Homo sapiens: one gene and its partners. The protein of the gene in region 1 interacts with the protein of each later gene in a biochemical or structural test. Each region holds a gene or a part of one and is shown in the gene's direction. Other genes may lie near its edges. The genes, in order: DLL1, NOTCH2 and NOTCH3.

What was found.
Region 2: the proteins of DLL1 (region 1) and NOTCH2 form a complex in vitro, tested with the Homo sapiens proteins (one study listed by BioGRID).
Region 3: the proteins of DLL1 (region 1) and NOTCH3 form a complex in vitro, tested with the Homo sapiens proteins (one study listed by BioGRID).

What each region holds. Positions count from the first base shown.
Region 1 is NC_000006.12:170,281,631-170,288,121, reverse strand, and holds the end of DLL1 (delta-like protein 1 precursor), read left to right. Parts: intron 1-1,823; coding exon 1,824-1,884; intron 1,885-2,422; coding exon 2,423-2,553; intron 2,554-2,698; coding exon 2,699-2,868; intron 2,869-2,986; coding exon 2,987-3,203; intron 3,204-4,092; coding exon 4,093-4,891; intron 4,892-5,016; coding exon 5,017-5,134; intron 5,135-5,242; coding exon 5,243-5,248; 3' UTR 5,249-5,916; downstream 5,917-6,491. UniProt on the Homo sapiens protein: Transmembrane ligand protein of NOTCH1, NOTCH2 and NOTCH3 receptors that binds the extracellular domain (ECD) of Notch receptor in a cis and trans fashion manner.
Region 2 is NC_000001.11:120,066,589-120,073,876, reverse strand, and holds the start of NOTCH2 (neurogenic locus notch homolog protein 2 isoform 1 preproprotein), read left to right. Parts: upstream 1-4,214; 5' UTR 4,215-4,470; coding exon 4,471-4,543; intron 4,544-7,288. UniProt on the Homo sapiens protein: Functions as a receptor for membrane-bound ligands Jagged-1 (JAG1), Jagged-2 (JAG2) and Delta-1 (DLL1) to regulate cell-fate determination.
Region 3 is NC_000019.10:15,158,516-15,163,091, reverse strand, and holds the end of NOTCH3 (neurogenic locus notch homolog protein 3 precursor), read left to right. Parts: intron 1-529; coding exon 530-627; intron 628-1,377; coding exon 1,378-2,430; 3' UTR 2,431-4,054; downstream 4,055-4,576. UniProt on the Homo sapiens protein: Functions as a receptor for membrane-bound ligands Jagged1, Jagged2 and Delta1 to regulate cell-fate determination.

The sequences.
Region 1 (6,491 bases):
CTGAGGCCCAGAGGACAGAAGTGGATTGCTATAAGTCACAGCTCGTCAGTGGGGGGGTTGGGGTCAACGCAGACATTTTAACATCCCAGGCTGTGTTTATCCACTATCGGAACTGCCTTTCTTAATCAGGGAGGATTTTAGAGACAGGGCCAGGGGTCAGGAAGTAAAGCCAGTGCTACCCCCAGGGTGTGTGTATTAGAGAGGGAGAGGAGGAAGGAAGGGAGGAACACAGAGAGAGCTTGTGTGTCAGGGGCACCATTTCAACCCGAGTTCCCAGTGCTGGAACAGCATCACACTGGGAAACGTTCCATTTTCTCTCTGGAGCTGGTGTGCTTGACCTCTCTGGAGCAAACGCCTTTCCGGATACTCCCTGTGACACGCACTGTCTATGCTGGCCAGAGAGCAGGCTTTCACTCCTGTGGGCTGCTGAGGCCAGGTCTCCAAGGCCTGTGTGGGCGAGGGGTGCACAGCCCCGTCTGGCTTGAATGCTCAGGCAGCACCTTGTCTGGAGAAGCAATGTCTTCCCAATAGTGACAGAGGCTCTACCTGCCTCTTATTAGGTATTGATGTGTCAATGTCATGGCAGGCAGGTGACTAGGGCAGGGTTGGGGCCGTGCTGGCTCCTGGTTCTGGCTCATGGGGACCTCAGGAGCCCTCTCTCCAGCTGACTGAGGCCTCGCCTGCACGCCTGGCCGTCCCAGCCCATTGGTACCGGATTTCTCTACAGCTGGGGATTGGGTAGGTCCTGGAGCTGCCCAGAAACTCCAGGGAACTGTCATTCTCCTTCCTTGGAACTGGACAACCTTGGAGAGGGGCTCTGGGAGGCCCAGAACCTCTGGCAGGAGCTGGGTAGTGCCTGGGGTTGAGGGTGGGTCTTCCCATTCACTGAGTGCCTTGATGTCCTTGCTCCTTAGCTTCCCAAATTCCCTCCGGAACTTACTGAGCTCCTTCTAAGCTTTGCCTTGGCCTGAACTGGTTCTGGGGAAAAACAAAAAAACAAAAAACAACTTGTGGAGCTGCTTGTTAATGAGTTTCATAACCAGGCAGCAAGAGCCAGCTCCAAGCCTCAAGCCCACTGTCTACTCCCTGCCCTGCGGGAGCCTCTGGCCAGTCTGCTGCCTCCCACCCTTCCTCCCTGCCTCTCTTCACCACAGGGTAGCCAGAAACTTAAACTTTTTTCTTCAAACACTGAAGTCTCTCCCCGCCCCCAGCTCGCGCGTGCCATAGATTAGATCTCTCCGGGGATAGGCGCAGGGACACCCGCCGGCTCCCATTGGCGGAAGGGGTGCGTGTGCGTGTGTGTGTGTGTGTGTGTGTGTACACGCGAGGGGTGTGTGTGAGGAGGTGGGGCCGGGGGCGCGGGGGAGGCCGGCATTGTTGCGCTGGGGCAGCTGCCGTGGAGGACAGACAATGGAGCAGCTGTCCTGCCCTGGCACCCTGCATACCAGCTGTCCACTCTTATCTGCACACACACTTTCTGGGATATTAAGAGGTGGAGCTTTGTGCACAGAATTGGGAAGTGGGGGAGGAGGAGGGGGAAGACTTCTGACCCTCTCTTAGAAGAAAAGGGGATAGGGTGGGGGTGGGGGCTTCCGAGAGCCCTTTTGTCCTTGAGCCCCTGTGTTAAGAAGAATGCTCATCCCCAGGGCTGAGTCAAGTCCCAGGCTACTAGGCAGGGGGGTCAGTCCTCCACAACCTGGGAAGATTAACTCAGCTGGGATTTGCTGACTGAAGCCGGCGAGTTGTGTCCTGGCCCCAAGGGCGGCAGCCCTGTTGGGACGTACTTGGCGTGGGGCTTGACCCTGTTTTTCCTTTGCTTGTAGCGATCTGCCTGCCTGGATGTGATGAGCAGCATGGATTTTGTGACAAACCAGGGGAATGCAAGTAAGTCTGCACAAGGTGGTGTTTTGTTTTGTTGCCTTTTCTTGTTATCTTTTCACAGCTGGTGTATTTGTAAAAACAGCCCTAGGTGATCATTCGAAAAACTCCAGTAAGATTGATTGAACAGGGGGCCGTTTTCTCATGTTTCTACTTAATCAATGTTTGGCAGCATGTAAGGTCATGGAGTTGTCATTCGTCTAAGCCCCTTAACGGCTATGAGAATTTACAGATAGTAGTTTAAAAAGAGTTGGCACAGGAAATGATAGTATAGTTCAATGGTTCTCAAATGTTGCCTCATCCTAGAATCACTCAGGGAGTGATTTTTGAGATGCTGACACTGGTGCTGCCCTAACACCCAAGAAGCCAGAACCTCTGGTGGGGCCCAGGCCCAGGCTGCAGCTCCCAAGGTGACCCAGTGTTCTGCTAATCTGGAGAACCAGAGGCTCACTGGTGCTGCGGGAAGATGGTTTCTAGGGTGAGAATGTCCACTGCAAAGCCAGCAACAGTCAACGTCCATCTGAGTCTTCTGCTTTTCTCCAAGGTGCAGAGTGGGCTGGCAGGGCCGGTACTGTGACGAGTGTATCCGCTATCCAGGCTGTCTCCATGGCACCTGCCAGCAGCCCTGGCAGTGCAACTGCCAGGAAGGCTGGGGGGGCCTTTTCTGCAACCAGGGTAAGCCTTCTCTCCCTGAGGCAGCCTGCTCCCTCCAGAGCAGCCCTGGACTTCCCTGGCTGTTTGATCACTGGAAAAATAAAGTCTTCCTGCATTTGATGTCGAGCTTCCTATCTCCTACTTTTCCTGTCCCCACCCTTCACAGACCTGAACTACTGCACACACCATAAGCCCTGCAAGAATGGAGCCACCTGCACCAACACGGGCCAGGGGAGCTACACTTGCTCTTGCCGGCCTGGGTACACAGGTGCCACCTGCGAGCTGGGGATTGACGAGTGTGACCCCAGCCCTTGTAAGAACGGAGGGAGCTGCACGGTGAGTCGGAGGCTCCATGGCATCTCACCCGGAAGCTGGGGTGCCCTGGTGTTGAATGGAGTGTGTGGGCTCCTTGGAGCAACTTTGGAAAGCCTTTTCTGACCTCTCCATCGTGTAGGATCTCGAGAACAGCTACTCCTGTACCTGCCCACCCGGCTTCTACGGCAAAATCTGTGAATTGAGTGCCATGACCTGTGCGGACGGCCCTTGCTTTAACGGGGGTCGGTGCTCAGACAGCCCCGATGGAGGGTACAGCTGCCGCTGCCCCGTGGGCTACTCCGGCTTCAACTGTGAGAAGAAAATTGACTACTGCAGCTCTTCACCCTGTTCTAATGGTAAGGGGGCAGCTGGTGATTGCTCAGAGACTCGGGCGAGCGGTCAATACTGAGGTGGCATTAAAAACAAGCATTTGTGAGTGACCTCGAGTTTATGAATCACTTTTATCCAGACCGCCAGGAATTCTCGATGGAAACTCTATCTTTGAGTCTGGAAAGGCCTGGGGAATGAGAGAGGCCAGGGCATTTGTTATGAAGTTCTCTGTGGAAACCTAGACCAAGCAGTGAATGACTTGCTCAGGGCCACAAGGTGCTTCGGGCACCTGCGGCCGCCTGAGGTTCAGTAAGTGATGCCCACAGGTGCCGGCCACTCCAGCTTGGGAGGATGGCCCAGCTGTGTGGCCACCCAGCACAGTAGTTGGGGGTGTCCCTGAGTGAGGACAGAGAGCCTCCTGCTAGCAGCGAGGGGCTGGCTGCCCAAAGGAGACACACAGCAAGGAGAGCTGGGCCCCAGATGTGCCGGAGCATTCCGGAATGGTCATCCTTCCCCTCCCTCCCTCCCCTGTTGTCAGTGCCTGCTCCTCTCACTTGCTGTGTAACTGTGGGCAAGGACACCCTCGTTAAGCCTCAGTTTCCCCATCTGAAACCTGGGTCGAGTGGCACATGCTCTTGCCCGGCTGTTGTGGCGACTAATGCAGCCACCAGAGTGTTCTGCACAGCGCCTGTCCAGATGCTGGCCGTGTGGTTTCTGACTTGTAGAGCTAGACCTGGACACCTCTCGTATTTGAGGTCCTAAACCATGTCACCTTGCGCTGTGGACTCATTCAGGCCACAGACTGTCTTTGGTTTGTCTGGTTTCTACAGTGTCAGACAGATAGATGCTTCAGAGTGACTTTTTGGTGAACAAACCTACGAGGAGACACGTGATGTTCATGTCCCTGTGTTCCAGGTGCCAAGTGTGTGGACCTCGGTGATGCCTACCTGTGCCGCTGCCAGGCCGGCTTCTCGGGGAGGCACTGTGACGACAACGTGGACGACTGCGCCTCCTCCCCGTGCGCCAACGGGGGCACCTGCCGGGATGGCGTGAACGACTTCTCCTGCACCTGCCCGCCTGGCTACACGGGCAGGAACTGCAGTGCCCCCGTCAGCAGGTGCGAGCACGCACCCTGCCACAATGGGGCCACCTGCCACGAGAGGGGCCACCGCTATGTGTGCGAGTGTGCCCGAGGCTACGGGGGTCCCAACTGCCAGTTCCTGCTCCCCGAGCTGCCCCCGGGCCCAGCGGTGGTGGACCTCACTGAGAAGCTAGAGGGCCAGGGCGGGCCATTCCCCTGGGTGGCCGTGTGCGCCGGGGTCATCCTTGTCCTCATGCTGCTGCTGGGCTGTGCCGCTGTGGTGGTCTGCGTCCGGCTGAGGCTGCAGAAGCACCGGCCCCCAGCCGACCCCTGCCGGGGGGAGACGGAGACCATGAACAACCTGGCCAACTGCCAGCGTGAGAAGGACATCTCAGTCAGCATCATCGGGGCCACGCAGATCAAGAACACCAACAAGAAGGCGGACTTCCACGGGGACCACAGCGCCGACAAGAATGGCTTCAAGGCCCGCTACCCAGCGGTGGACTATAACCTCGTGCAGGACCTCAAGGGTGACGACACCGCCGTCAGGGACGCGCACAGCAAGCGTGACACCAAGTGCCAGCCCCAGGGCTCCTCAGGGGAGGAGAAGGGGACCCCGACCACACTCAGGGGGTGCGTGCTGCGGGCCGGGCATCAGGAGGGGGTACCTGGGGGGTGTCTTCCTGGAACCACTGCTCCGTTTCTCTTCCCAAATGTTCTCATGCATTCATTGTGGATTTTCTCTATTTTCCTTTTAGTGGAGAAGCATCTGAAAGAAAAAGGCCGGACTCGGGCTGTTCAACTTCAAAAGACACCAAGTACCAGTCGGTGTACGTCATATCCGAGGAGAAGGATGAGTGCGTCATAGCAACTGAGGTCAGTGCAGGCAGCAGCCGCTCCCTCCTCCTCGGCATGGGAGCACCTGAAGCTGGAGCACGGGAATCGGTCTCAGGCTAACTTCCCATTTGTCTTGTGGCCCCCCAGGTGTAAAATGGAAGTGAGATGGCAAGACTCCCGTTTCTCTTAAAATAAGTAAAATTCCAAGGATATATGCCCCAACGAATGCTGCTGAAGAGGAGGGAGGCCTCGTGGACTGCTGCTGAGAAACCGAGTTCAGACCGAGCAGGTTCTCCTCCTGAGGTCCTCGACGCCTGCCGACAGCCTGTCGCGGCCCGGCCGCCTGCGGCACTGCCTTCCGTGACGTCGCCGTTGCACTATGGACAGTTGCTCTTAAGAGAATATATATTTAAATGGGTGAACTGAATTACGCATAAGAAGCATGCACTGCCTGAGTGTATATTTTGGATTCTTATGAGCCAGTCTTTTCTTGAATTAGAAACACAAACACTGCCTTTATTGTCCTTTTTGATACGAAGATGTGCTTTTTCTAGATGGAAAAGATGTGTGTTATTTTTTGGATTTGTAAAAATATTTTTCATGATATCTGTAAAGCTTGAGTATTTTGTGATGTTCGTTTTTTATAATTTAAATTTTGGTAAATATGTACAAAGGCACTTCGGGTCTATGTGACTATATTTTTTTGTATATAAATGTATTTATGGAATATTGTGCAAATGTTATTTGAGTTTTTTACTGTTTTGTTAATGAAGAAATTCCTTTTTAAAATATTTTTCCAAAATAAATTTTATGAATGACAACCAGAAGGCGTAGTTACTTGGCTTTGCCTTAGAGCGGAGGTGTGCTCACTCACCTGCGGCCCGCGAGGCTGAGGGCAGAGGTGGCCTTGGTGTTTCTCTTTTCAAGGCTTTGGTTTCCCTGGATCCATGAGAAGCAGCCCGTTCCTCTCCTCCCTCAGGAAGCTGCTTGCTGGCCATCATGAGGTGACTTGGTAAGAGCAGGCACGCGCATGAAGCAGCCGCGATTTTCTAATTCCATCCCCCCATGCATTTATTAGTTCTTTCCGCAGAAAGAATGAGCGTTCCTCATTCATTCATTCATTCATTCATTCATTCATTCATTCATGTCAGTGTAGACTTGTGAGTTATTTTGTACCCAGTGGGTCACAGCTGTCATGATTTTGTCGCCGTTTGACGCCAACATGGCCCCAGACGGGGCGTGGGAGTCACGGAAGCTGCTCCTCCGCTTCCCGTCGGTGGGCAGCCCCGTCTCTAAGCGCGTCCCGCCTGCTGGCTCAGCAGGACCGCACGGGCTCCCTGTGGGCTGACCCCTCATTTGCCGCTTTGCCCCCCGCTAAGCCCGGGTTCCTTATGGT
Region 2 (7,288 bases), on another chromosome or scaffold:
TTTACAAACATGAATAAGGGGTAAGAAATGACTCTTGTCACATGGCTTACAGTCCAGCTGTGTGGGCCACCACAGTTCATATCTTTCAGGATGGGGACTGGATGAGAGGAAAGTGGACTCAAAATTAATCCCAGTGCTCTCTACTTTCCCATATCCCTGTGCTTTATCTCTGTTGTAGTTATGTTATTTGTATGTTGGCCTGCCTCACTGCTCTGTGATCTCCAAAGAACAGGGACTGGGTTTTATTTATTTCTGCATTGCCGCAGAGCCTAGTATGTGCTTTGTAGAGAACAGGCTCTCAAAAAAATTTTAAATTAAAAGAATTTATTCACTTGTTTATGTTTCCTAGTTACAGTGGGTCAGCTTGTTCTGTGCTAACATGGAAGTGACAAGAAGCTGGTGTCCCTCTACACAGAGGTCCCCACACTAAATATCATCTTGGATGTGCTTCACATTGTTGCACAAAGGTACAGTGGAGTGAGACTGAGTAAGAGGACAGAAATAGTGGGGGGTTTGTCTCAGCTCACTAATTACTTATTTAACCTTGGGCAAGATACTTAAAGCTCTATCTCAGTTTCTTCATCTGCAAAATGGGTATAATAATGACTGGGGTGCCTATTTCCCACGATTGTTTTGAGGATCAAATGAGATAATATAATTAAAAGTGTTTTTGGAAGGTCTAAATCACTGCGCAACTGCAAGGCATTATTAAAAGAAATCTTCCTTTTAATTCCTGCTTCCACAAACATCTCATCACATATCCTTGGGTTCCTGGGTTACATGGAGAGATTCGTGGTGTAGCTCAATCTATGTGTCATAGCTATCCCACAATCTCTTCTTCAACTTCTCCAACACACCAAGACATTCTTCCAGTCTTGCATTGTTCCCCAGTTTATATAGATATATATGTTCCTCATTCAGCATTTATGTAAAACATATATTATTGAGCACTTATGTGATAGAAACCGAGGCAAAACAGAAAATAAAACAGAGTTTTATTTTGAGAGTTTTTTTTACAGCTTATCGGCTCTGAGAGGACAGACATGAGAACAAATAAGTGCCCAATTCTGCATTTATTTTGGAAGGCAGTTTTATGTGAGTTTAAATCAGTAAAGACATAGATGTATATTTTTAGTTTTGATTAAAACTAAAACAATTGGTAGCCCTTATTCATATTTTTCTATCATTAAAACTTATCTTTAAAAAATGTCTTCAGTCATATTTTTCCCTTACTTCCATTCATATTTACTCTTTACTTCTCTTGTCCTTACCAGAATGTATGCAGTAAGTTTTCATATTGTAACATATTCAACAAAAGTTATATGTGAACATAATAGCTGCTTTCTTTAAAACGGTTACTTTGAGAAACTGCATACCTATTTTTTTTTTTTTTTTTTTTTTGAGACGGAGTTTCACTCTTGTTGTCCAGGCTGGAGTACAGTGGCACGATCTTGGCTCACTGCAATCTCTGCCTCCTGGGTTCAAGTGATTCTACTGCCTCAGTCTCCTGAGTAGCTGGGATTACAGGTGCTCGCCACCATGCCCGGCTAATTTTTGGTATTTTTAGTAGAGACGGGTTTTCAACATGTTGGCCAGGCTGGTCTCAAACTCCTGACCTCAGGTGATCTGCCCACCTCAGCTTCCCAAAGTGCTGGGATTATGACATAAGCCGCCACGCCTGGCCTGCACATTTATTTTAATAATGTTGTCATAGCTACAGTCGCTTCTAGAGTTGCTCTTTGGGGATAACTATCTTATATTCTTCTGAATATATTTTAATAGTGACAAAACTTATCTTTGCAGGTGATTTTTAAAATTTGTATGCAGCCAAGTCACTATGAATTATCTTTAGTGAGTAAAGAGGAAGATCGAACTGGTAACACTGTGGGTAAACAACTGAAAAATAATGTTATCTTTCTCTGAACATACTTGCACAAGACAAATTCCAAAAATATTTTGACTACATTATTTTTGAAAAGGGTTTCCAGTATTTCAATGTGACTACTTTCACTAATGGTACTTGCTTACCTAAAGTGCTTGTTAACATGCAGTTTTGGAACTTCATAGGTCTATGCCCATACTGACTTGTACTTGCTTAGTGTTGTTTCACATTCTAGTTCAACATCTATTATGTGATAGACACTGGGGATTAATAGGCTGTGGTCTTTGCCCATGAGGACCTCAAAACTTAGTTGAGAACACAGAAATACAAAGAGTCCTGTGTGAAAAATAAGTATCGGTGTTAAGATAAAGAAGCGGCAGTGGAAGACAGTGGAGGGACTGTCTGTTAGGGGGAGGAATTTATTGCGGTGTCGGCAAAGCCTTCTTTGGACTGAAGGATGAATTATGATTAGAAGTTCATTAAGAGGAGGAGGGAAGGGGACTACAGGAGTCATTCCAAGCCAAAGGAACAAAAGATACAGGGACAGAAACAGCAAGATATGTTTGGGGGAATCTCAAGTTAGTCAATACTGTTATTGTGTGAAGTTCACAACAGGGGCAGGGAGGACAGGAGATGGGGCCCAATGACGAAAAGGCCTTGTATGTACCATGTTTAGAAGTTTGAATTTTATCCTATAGGAGTCAGGGAGAGGTTCTATGGGTAGGATTTCCCATCCCAACAGGATTGTAAACTCCCACATCCAATTAGTCACACCTCCATTTTTTTTTTCTGTTTCTTTAACATTGTCTCGGATTCATTCCTTCTGAAATCTACCTTATTAGTTCAGGTCTTCTTAAATTTGTGCCTGGACTGTTCACCAACTCTTGACTGGTCCTGGGGCTCCAGTTCACCTCTTGCTCCCCCAACAATCAATTTTCTACAGAATTATCAGAGCAATCTTCCTTTCCATCAATCTCAACTCTGTTCAAAAACTTTCAATAGTTTTATGTGACCTAAGAGGTAGCTGCCTCCCCACCCTTTCAGCTTGCCATTCAAGGCTGCATAATTTGGTCCCAACCCCCTTTCCGTCCTTGACTCCTCTCACTGCTAACAGAGACAGAACTCATTTACTTACTCTTTTGACTGTACCTTTGCTTTCACGAGGGCTCTTTCCTGGAATGATATGTCCATACAACTATTGTTGCTGTTCTTACTTTTAGCTCTTTTCTTAGAAGCCCACTTGTACCCAGGTTTGATCACACCCCCTACTCTCCTGCCCTGGAAGTAACTACTATTCTGGTTATAGTCTCTTAATATCTATATCTATATATATGCATCCACAGATAATGTGTAGTATTGTCTTGAAAAAAATATACATAAATGGTATACTTTGTCTCCCTCTGTGATTAGTTTTTTCACTATCATTTAGTTTTTAAGATTTATCCCTATTGACATAAATAGCTATAGTCTTTTCAATTACTGTGTTGCATTTCATTTTATAAATATACCATACATTATTCATCCATTCCTCTAAGGGTGGGCATTTATGTTGTTTTCAAGGTTTTGCTATTACAGTGTTACAACGAATATCCTTAGCTTAGCTGGTCTCCTTGTCTTATACAAATTTTACTGACCTTTCAAGATCCTGCTTTCATCCCAGCTCCTCTGGGAAAGCCTTCCCTGAATCCCCCAGCCCACAGCGGCAAAGTCTTGGTACTCAAAGTTGCTTGTGCATCTTTGGTATCATCCCACTGCCAAGCACACAGCTACGCAAAGTAAGGCACTTAAGAAATATTCGCTACACGGATGAACAAATGAATGAATGAATGGGGCAGCACCACTCCGTGATGGCTCTATTCCTTTTTAATGGACTTTGGCGCCTTGGCCCACTTTCCTTCTTTGACAGCACTGGTCCTACTCCAGAGCATTCCTCTAGCTAGCAAAGCAGTGTGTGGATGTGTGGGTGTAGGTGGCGATACAGACCTCACTGGATGAGGACCGCCTCTCCCTGCAAGTTCACGATCCCGGCAAACTCCAGTGCTTGAAGTTCAGAGTCCTACCCCACCCCCCTCACCCCCACGCCCCTTCTGCACTGGTCAAGCCAGCGAGCCGCTGCAGCCCTGATCGAGTTAAGGCGCGGCGGCCCCCGGGGCCGCTGGAGAAGGATGCGGACGGGGCCAGTGACTCGTAGTAGATCCCTCCGCGCGGAGCTCGGGCCGGCGCTTCTTCCTGCGGGAAACCCCTGGGTGCCCAAGGCGGCGGGGCCGAGGCCGCGGCGACAGTGGGGCGGGGCTTGCGGTGGGAGGAGGCGGCTGAGGCGGAAGGACACACGAGGCTGCTTCGTTGCACACCCGAGAAAGTTTCAGCCAAACTTCGGGCGGCGGCTGAGGCGGCGGCCGAGGAGCGGCGGACTCGGGGCGCGGGGAGTCGAGGCATTTGCGCCTGGGCTTCGGAGCGTAGCGCCAGGGCCTGAGCCTTTGAAGCAGGAGGAGGGGAGGAGAGAGTGGGGCTCCTCTATCGGGACCCCCTCCCCATGTGGATCTGCCCAGGCGGCGGCGGCGGCGGCGGAGGAGGAGGCGACCGAGAAGATGCCCGCCCTGCGCCCCGCTCTGCTGTGGGCGCTGCTGGCGCTCTGGCTGTGCTGCGCGGCCCCCGCGCATGGTGAGTATCGGGCTGAGGGGCGCTGTCCGCGGCGCCCGGGGCTGCCACCTGGGGCGACCCTTCTCCCCCTCGGTCCTTCTCTGTGTGGGAAGGCCAGGCTCGGCCGCCGGCGCGGAGCGAGGCCACTCGCTGGGTTCCCAAGAGTTTGGACATCGCCGGGGGCCCCTCCCGTGGTGCCCCGCCAACCGCCGGGGTTCCCCGCCGCCTCTGCTCCCCGCGGCCCGGGACCCCTTACACGCCTCCTCGGCAGGAGGGAGGCCGGCAGCAAGTCTCAGAAACTCCTTTTTCGTAGTGCCAGGGTGCAGGGAGGTGGGCAGTTTTGCCCTTCAGGTTCCGCGTTTCTTGGGGTCGAGCGAGAGCCGACGGCGGGCCTCGGAGGGGCTGAGCGAAGGAATGCCAGATTCTGGCGTGGAGAGCGGGGGCAGGGCCGCCAAGCCAAACGGCCTGCACCGTCGCAGCCAGCCTCGCCTTTGCCAGGGGGCGGCACATGGGCCGGGTGTGTGGGCTTGGTTTGGATGGGGACGGGGTTTTGCGGCGCGCCTGAGTTTTGACACTCCAACCCCACCGAAAGTCCGGGGGAGCCGTGTGTGCTGCTCGCGTCTTTGAAAGGTGGAGGCAGGAGAAGTAGGGCAACTGGTGTGGCTGCATGCTGAGGCACATGATTTAAAAATCTCAACTGCTGTTATTCTTTCCGAGGCGCGGAGCTCTGCTGCTGTTTCAGGCTGTGTCCAGACCCAGGAATGTGGTGTGACGATCACCAATTCCTCCAACCTGGCAGCAGCATTTGCTGCTCCTTTGGCATGGCTGGGGGTGGGGCACGGGCGGGTGAGAAAAAGTGGATACGTTAATTCAAAGGGCTTCCTTAGAAAGCTTCTTTATGGTTGGATGTTTCTAACACGGTTGGACCAAGGAAAGGGAATCAAATCATATCTTCCCCATCCCACCCACACTTTTAGATTCTACATTTCTTCAGACCCTTTAGTGGAAATAACTTGGGCTTTGGAGCCCTGCTCTGTAATCCTGGATTCAAATCCAGCTCTGCTATATGAACTCACCAATAAAATGGGAAAGAAATTATCCAGCTAATAGGATTAATTAAAATAATGTATATTAAACGGATGACACTCCAAAGGTGTTCAGAAAGTCCTTTCAGGGCCGAGGCTGTGTTTTACTGCTTCTGAGATTGATGCTCCCAGTGGGATGCTGTCTTGTGCATATTTGTTGAACGGAAAGCAGCCCCTTCTTTTTCTGAGCCTAATCTGAATAAAGATTTTTACCTTCACCAAAAAACTAGTACATGAACTACATCTGTTTTCAAAGAAAAGGTTAGGAAGATGATGAGCTTCAGAAAAATATGGTCTTTGTTCATTGTTAACAGTCAGTCGACATGTCAATCGCAGATGTTTAAAAAGAGAACAAGGTTATTTATCACCCGAAAATAGTACTGGGTTGTTCAGCACCAACTAGATACTTCTTGGAAAGTTCAAATTTCGTACACGTCTAGGTCACTAAGAATTTCAGAAGTGGACCAGGAGGCTTTGTAGTGATGAAGCAGAGCCGTTGTTTCTGAAGCATTTAATAAAGAGCATATATGATGGTGTTTTTGCTTTTCCTTTTTCTTTGAGTGAAAGCTTTAAGTGTAGCTTTAGGATAGAGAGGAGTATGATCAATGAGACAGTCTGAGGGTAATAATCCTTGGTCTATCATTAACTTGTTTTGGTAAATAACTTAATCTTCATGATATGTAGTCTCCTCACCTATGAAGCAGGACTAAAGGAATAACCTGCTTTAGAGAATTGTAGGGAATAATAAATATAATTGTAAAGTGATTTGAAAAATTAAGTATTAAATAATATGATATCAGAAATGGGATTACTCTGACACATAGGGCTTCTTTTATTATAGGATCTCAGTGCATAAAACTATGCCCTCCACCTCTGCTCTGCTGAGGTGCTGCGATTATTAGCTAGCTTTTAGGTAGTCAAGTTGAGTGTTAGTCAAGTTGACTCAAAGGATAGGATTTAGATATTTTGATTTTTAGACAGGTGTTCTTTAGATGCTAAACTAATGCAGTAGAAGAGATTTAGAAGCCGTTTCTCGGTACAAATCTTAAATCTTCTTAGAGTCTACAGTGAAGGCTTCTTGAATCCTCTTAATTTATTATTGTGTTTTGCTAAGGTACCAGTTGCAGCACACCCTTCTAAACTTTTGAGTGTTCCTGTGTTTGGCTTGTGGCCAATTGTTAATTTAAACATCACGGAGTTTCTAAGGCAAGGAGATGTTAGCAGTATGTCTGATTGTCTAAACAGCTATCCAGGACCATCCTCTTGCTCCTTGTTTTCTTTTGCTTTGCAATGGGAAGTGACTCCCTGATTTTGCTGCCTGCTAGATAATTTCTCAGCTGAATTCTTCTCTTGCTTAAACAAAATCGGAGTAATTTTCTTTCAGATGGTGATGAAATTTAACCTAAAACTATTTTTCCTTTCACTTTCTTATTATTCCTTTTTTTTTGGTGTGGTGGAGAGGAGGAGGAGAGTGATTCCTAGTCTCTCTTATTTTTCTGAATGTTTAGATTTAAAAAATATTTACCCATAACTTCTTGGGATCTCTCTGCTCCATTCCCACCCTACTGCCTCTCCTGTAGGCTTCTATGACATAGAGGAGCAACTTTTGGTTCACCTGGATTGTAGTTGCTGACTTCAGGACCTTTAGAGAATGTTTAAATTCAGTGGGATATGCTTGGAT
Region 3 (4,576 bases), on another chromosome or scaffold:
CTCTATCAAAAATACAAAAAATCAGCTGGGCATGGTGGTACATGCCTGTAGTCCCAGCTACTAGGGAGGCTGAGGCAGGAAAATCGCCTGAGCCCAGCAGGTAGAGGTTGCAGTGAACTGAGATTGTGCCAATGGACTCCAGCCTGGGTGACAGAACAAGACACTACCTCAAAAATAAATAAATGGATAAATAAAAACCACATGTGACTGACTACTGTATTGGATGTCACAACCCTAGGTTCAACTGAAGGAGGTCCACACAGCACCCCCTGTGTATAAACAGTCATGCACATGCACGCACACACACACACACACACAAACACACACACACAGACACAAAGTGCTTCCCCATTGCACAGAGTCATTTTGCAGATTTGCACACACATGGATCCAGACACAAGTACTTGGATATTCACGGCAGGCCTGCCTCCTCTACCCCTAGGCCACATTCTAGACAATTTCTGCCTCCCTGACATGGGGGCCCCAGGACAGGTGCCTGGTCCTGACCTCTCTCCCCTTCATCCTCCAGGGAAATCAGCCTTACACTGGGCTGCGGCTGTGAACAACGTGGAAGCCACTTTGGCCCTGCTCAAAAATGGAGCCAATAAGGACATGCAGGATAGCAAGGTGAGCCCCAGCCCTTGGTCCACTGGGTGTCAGCAGTGGCACAGTGCCATTGCAATCCAGCCTGGGCAACAGAGTGAGACTCTCTCAAAAAACAAAACAAAATAAAACCCCAAACATTGGATTAAAATATAATTTACTTTGGTGACTAAAGTTTTTGGGGGCCCCTTAAATTTTGTGCCTAATGGCTGGGTGTGGTGGTTCATGCCTATAATCCCAGCACTTTGGGAGGTCGAGATGGGTGGATTACTTGAGTTCAGGAGTTTGAGACCAGCCTGGCCAACGTAGTAAAACCCTGTCTCTATTAAAAATACAAAAATTAGCTGGGCGTAGTGGTGCACACCTGTAGTCCCAGCTGCTCGGGAGGCTGAGGCAGGAGAATCGCTTGAACCCGGAAGGCTGAGGTTGCAGTGAACTGAAATGGCGCCACTGCACTCCAGCCTGGGCGACACAGTGAGACTCTGTCAAAAAAAAAAAAAAAAAAAGACAAGAAAAAAAAAGTTATGCCTAAGGTGAGTACCTCGCTTAACTCACCCTAGTCCTGGCCTTGACCTCTGGCACTTAGTAGGTGATGGATGAATGTGGTTTAGAGGAAAGAACTTGTCCAGGCTCCCCCAGCACAGCCGGGATTTAACCCAGGTCTGTCAAGCTCCAGTGTACAAACTCATAGCTCTCGGGCTCCCCCAAGAGGCTGGAAGACTTTGCTACTGTTAGCTGGGGTTTCGCTGACCTCTGTGGGTTCTGGCCCCCCAGGAGGAGACCCCCCTATTCCTGGCCGCCCGCGAGGGCAGCTATGAGGCTGCCAAGCTGCTGTTGGACCACTTTGCCAACCGTGAGATCACCGACCACCTGGACAGGCTGCCGCGGGACGTAGCCCAGGAGAGACTGCACCAGGACATCGTGCGCTTGCTGGATCAACCCAGTGGGCCCCGCAGCCCCCCCGGTCCCCACGGCCTGGGGCCTCTGCTCTGTCCTCCAGGGGCCTTCCTCCCTGGCCTCAAAGCGGCACAGTCGGGGTCCAAGAAGAGCAGGAGGCCCCCCGGGAAGGCGGGGCTGGGGCCGCAGGGGCCCCGGGGGCGGGGCAAGAAGCTGACGCTGGCCTGCCCGGGCCCCCTGGCTGACAGCTCGGTCACGCTGTCGCCCGTGGACTCGCTGGACTCCCCGCGGCCTTTCGGTGGGCCCCCTGCTTCCCCTGGTGGCTTCCCCCTTGAGGGGCCCTATGCAGCTGCCACTGCCACTGCAGTGTCTCTGGCACAGCTTGGTGGCCCAGGCCGGGCGGGTCTAGGGCGCCAGCCCCCTGGAGGATGTGTACTCAGCCTGGGCCTGCTGAACCCTGTGGCTGTGCCCCTCGATTGGGCCCGGCTGCCCCCACCTGCCCCTCCAGGCCCCTCGTTCCTGCTGCCACTGGCGCCGGGACCCCAGCTGCTCAACCCAGGGACCCCCGTCTCCCCGCAGGAGCGGCCCCCGCCTTACCTGGCAGTCCCAGGACATGGCGAGGAGTACCCGGCGGCTGGGGCACACAGCAGCCCCCCAAAGGCCCGCTTCCTGCGGGTTCCCAGTGAGCACCCTTACCTGACCCCATCCCCCGAATCCCCTGAGCACTGGGCCAGCCCCTCACCTCCCTCCCTCTCAGACTGGTCCGAATCCACGCCTAGCCCAGCCACTGCCACTGGGGCCATGGCCACCACCACTGGGGCACTGCCTGCCCAGCCACTTCCCTTGTCTGTTCCCAGCTCCCTTGCTCAGGCCCAGACCCAGCTGGGGCCCCAGCCGGAAGTTACCCCCAAGAGGCAAGTGTTGGCCTGAGACGCTCGTCAGTTCTTAGATCTTGGGGGCCTAAAGAGACCCCCGTCCTGCCTCCTTTCTTTCTCTGTCTCTTCCTTCCTTTTAGTCTTTTTCATCCTCTTCTCTTTCCACCAACCCTCCTGCATCCTTGCCTTGCAGCGTGACCGAGATAGGTCATCAGCCCAGGGCTTCAGTCTTCCTTTATTTATAATGGGTGGGGGCTACCACCCACCCTCTCAGTCTTGTGAAGAGTCTGGGACCTCCTTCTTCCCCACTTCTCTCTTCCCTCATTCCTTTCTCTCTCCTTCTGGCCTCTCATTTCCTTACACTCTGACATGAATGAATTATTATTATTTTTATTTTTCTTTTTTTTTTTACATTTTGTATAGAAACAAATTCATTTAAACAAACTTATTATTATTATTTTTTACAAAATATATATATGGAGATGCTCCCTCCCCCTGTGAACCCCCCAGTGCCCCCGTGGGGCTGAGTCTGTGGGCCCATTCGGCCAAGCTGGATTCTGTGTACCTAGTACACAGGCATGACTGGGATCCCGTGTACCGAGTACACGACCCAGGTATGTACCAAGTAGGCACCCTTGGGCGCACCCACTGGGGCCAGGGGTCGGGGGAGTGTTGGGAGCCTCCTCCCCACCCCACCTCCCTCACTTCACTGCATTCCAGATGGGACATGTTCCATAGCCTTGCTGGGGAAGGGCCCACTGCCAACTCCCTCTGCCCCAGCCCCACCCTTGGCCATCTCCCTTTGGGAACTAGGGGGCTGCTGGTGGGAAATGGGAGCCAGGGCAGATGTATGCATTCCTTTGTGTCCCTGTAAATGTGGGACTACAAGAAGAGGAGCTGCCTGAGTGGTACTTTCTCTTCCTGGTAATCCTCTGGCCCAGCCTCATGGCAGAATAGAGGTATTTTTAGGCTATTTTTGTAATATGGCTTCTGGTCAAAATCCCTGTGTAGCTGAATTCCCAAGCCCTGCATTGTACAGCCCCCCACTCCCCTCACCACCTAATAAAGGAATAGTTAACACTCAGTGTTGTTGGTCTGTGTCTAGGTAAGGTGGGGAGTGGTGGCAGTGGGACTTCTATCTCCCCCACCCAGGGCTAACTTGAGCTCCCATCTTGGGGTAAATACATTTGACTTGCCAGTCTACTTATGCTTCCTCTTTTGGCAGATGACTACCGATTGGATTAGTGGTTGTCACCTGACTTAAGCTGAGCCAATCAGATTCTTTTGCTCGAGAACTTTCTTTAATGGAGAGGCTAAGAAAGTTGTCAGTTGGTGGAGCTCTTAAGGTCACAATCAGATTTAGAAATATCAGTGGCCAATTCGAGGTGGTGGGCAAAGAGACAAGCAAACAGGGCAGAAGAATGAAGCTAATATTCAGGGAGAATCAGAAATGAGAGCTCAAATGGCTCCTTGAGGGCTGGGGGGGTTATCTCGGCTCCCAGTGCAGTTATCAATTCCAGTTAATTGAGTGTTCATTCCATTGAGATCAACAGGTATTTATTAATTGCTTTCTAAGTATCTGATCATGGTTCTGCATGAATTTCACTTTTACTTCATGCTCCTATGGGTTTTGGAGATAACCTTGGACCCATGTAATAAATACTTCTTTACTTGTGCCAGCTTCGGTGGGTTTCTGTTACTCGCAACCAGTCGTGCTCCAAGACAAGGTTCTGTTTACACTGGTGTCTTCAGGAAAGGAGGATAGGATTTAATGTTCGTTGATTCTGTCAGTTGGAGTGCTCCTGGTTGCAAATGACACAAAAGTCTACTGGCTTAAACAAGAAAGGGGTTTATTAGCTCATATAAATTAAAAGGACCTACTTCAGGGGAGAATTGATCTAGTGGCTCAAATGTGGTCAACAATGGCTCAGTTTCTCTTCATCTCTACAGCTTTCTCTGGGCATCAGTTTCATCTACATGCTCCACATGGCACCCAGTAGAACCTCTCTTCCCGACATCACACAGCTCCAGCCTTCTCTCTGTGTTATCAAAATAGGTGCCATATTGCTCCTTCCAGGGAAGAGAGAAACTCCTAGTATTGTGATTGATTTTTCTTTTACTTTCTTCCTTTTTTTTTTTTTTTTTTTAAGATAGAGTCTTGTTCTTGTCACCCAGGCTGGAGTGCAATGGCACAATCTCGG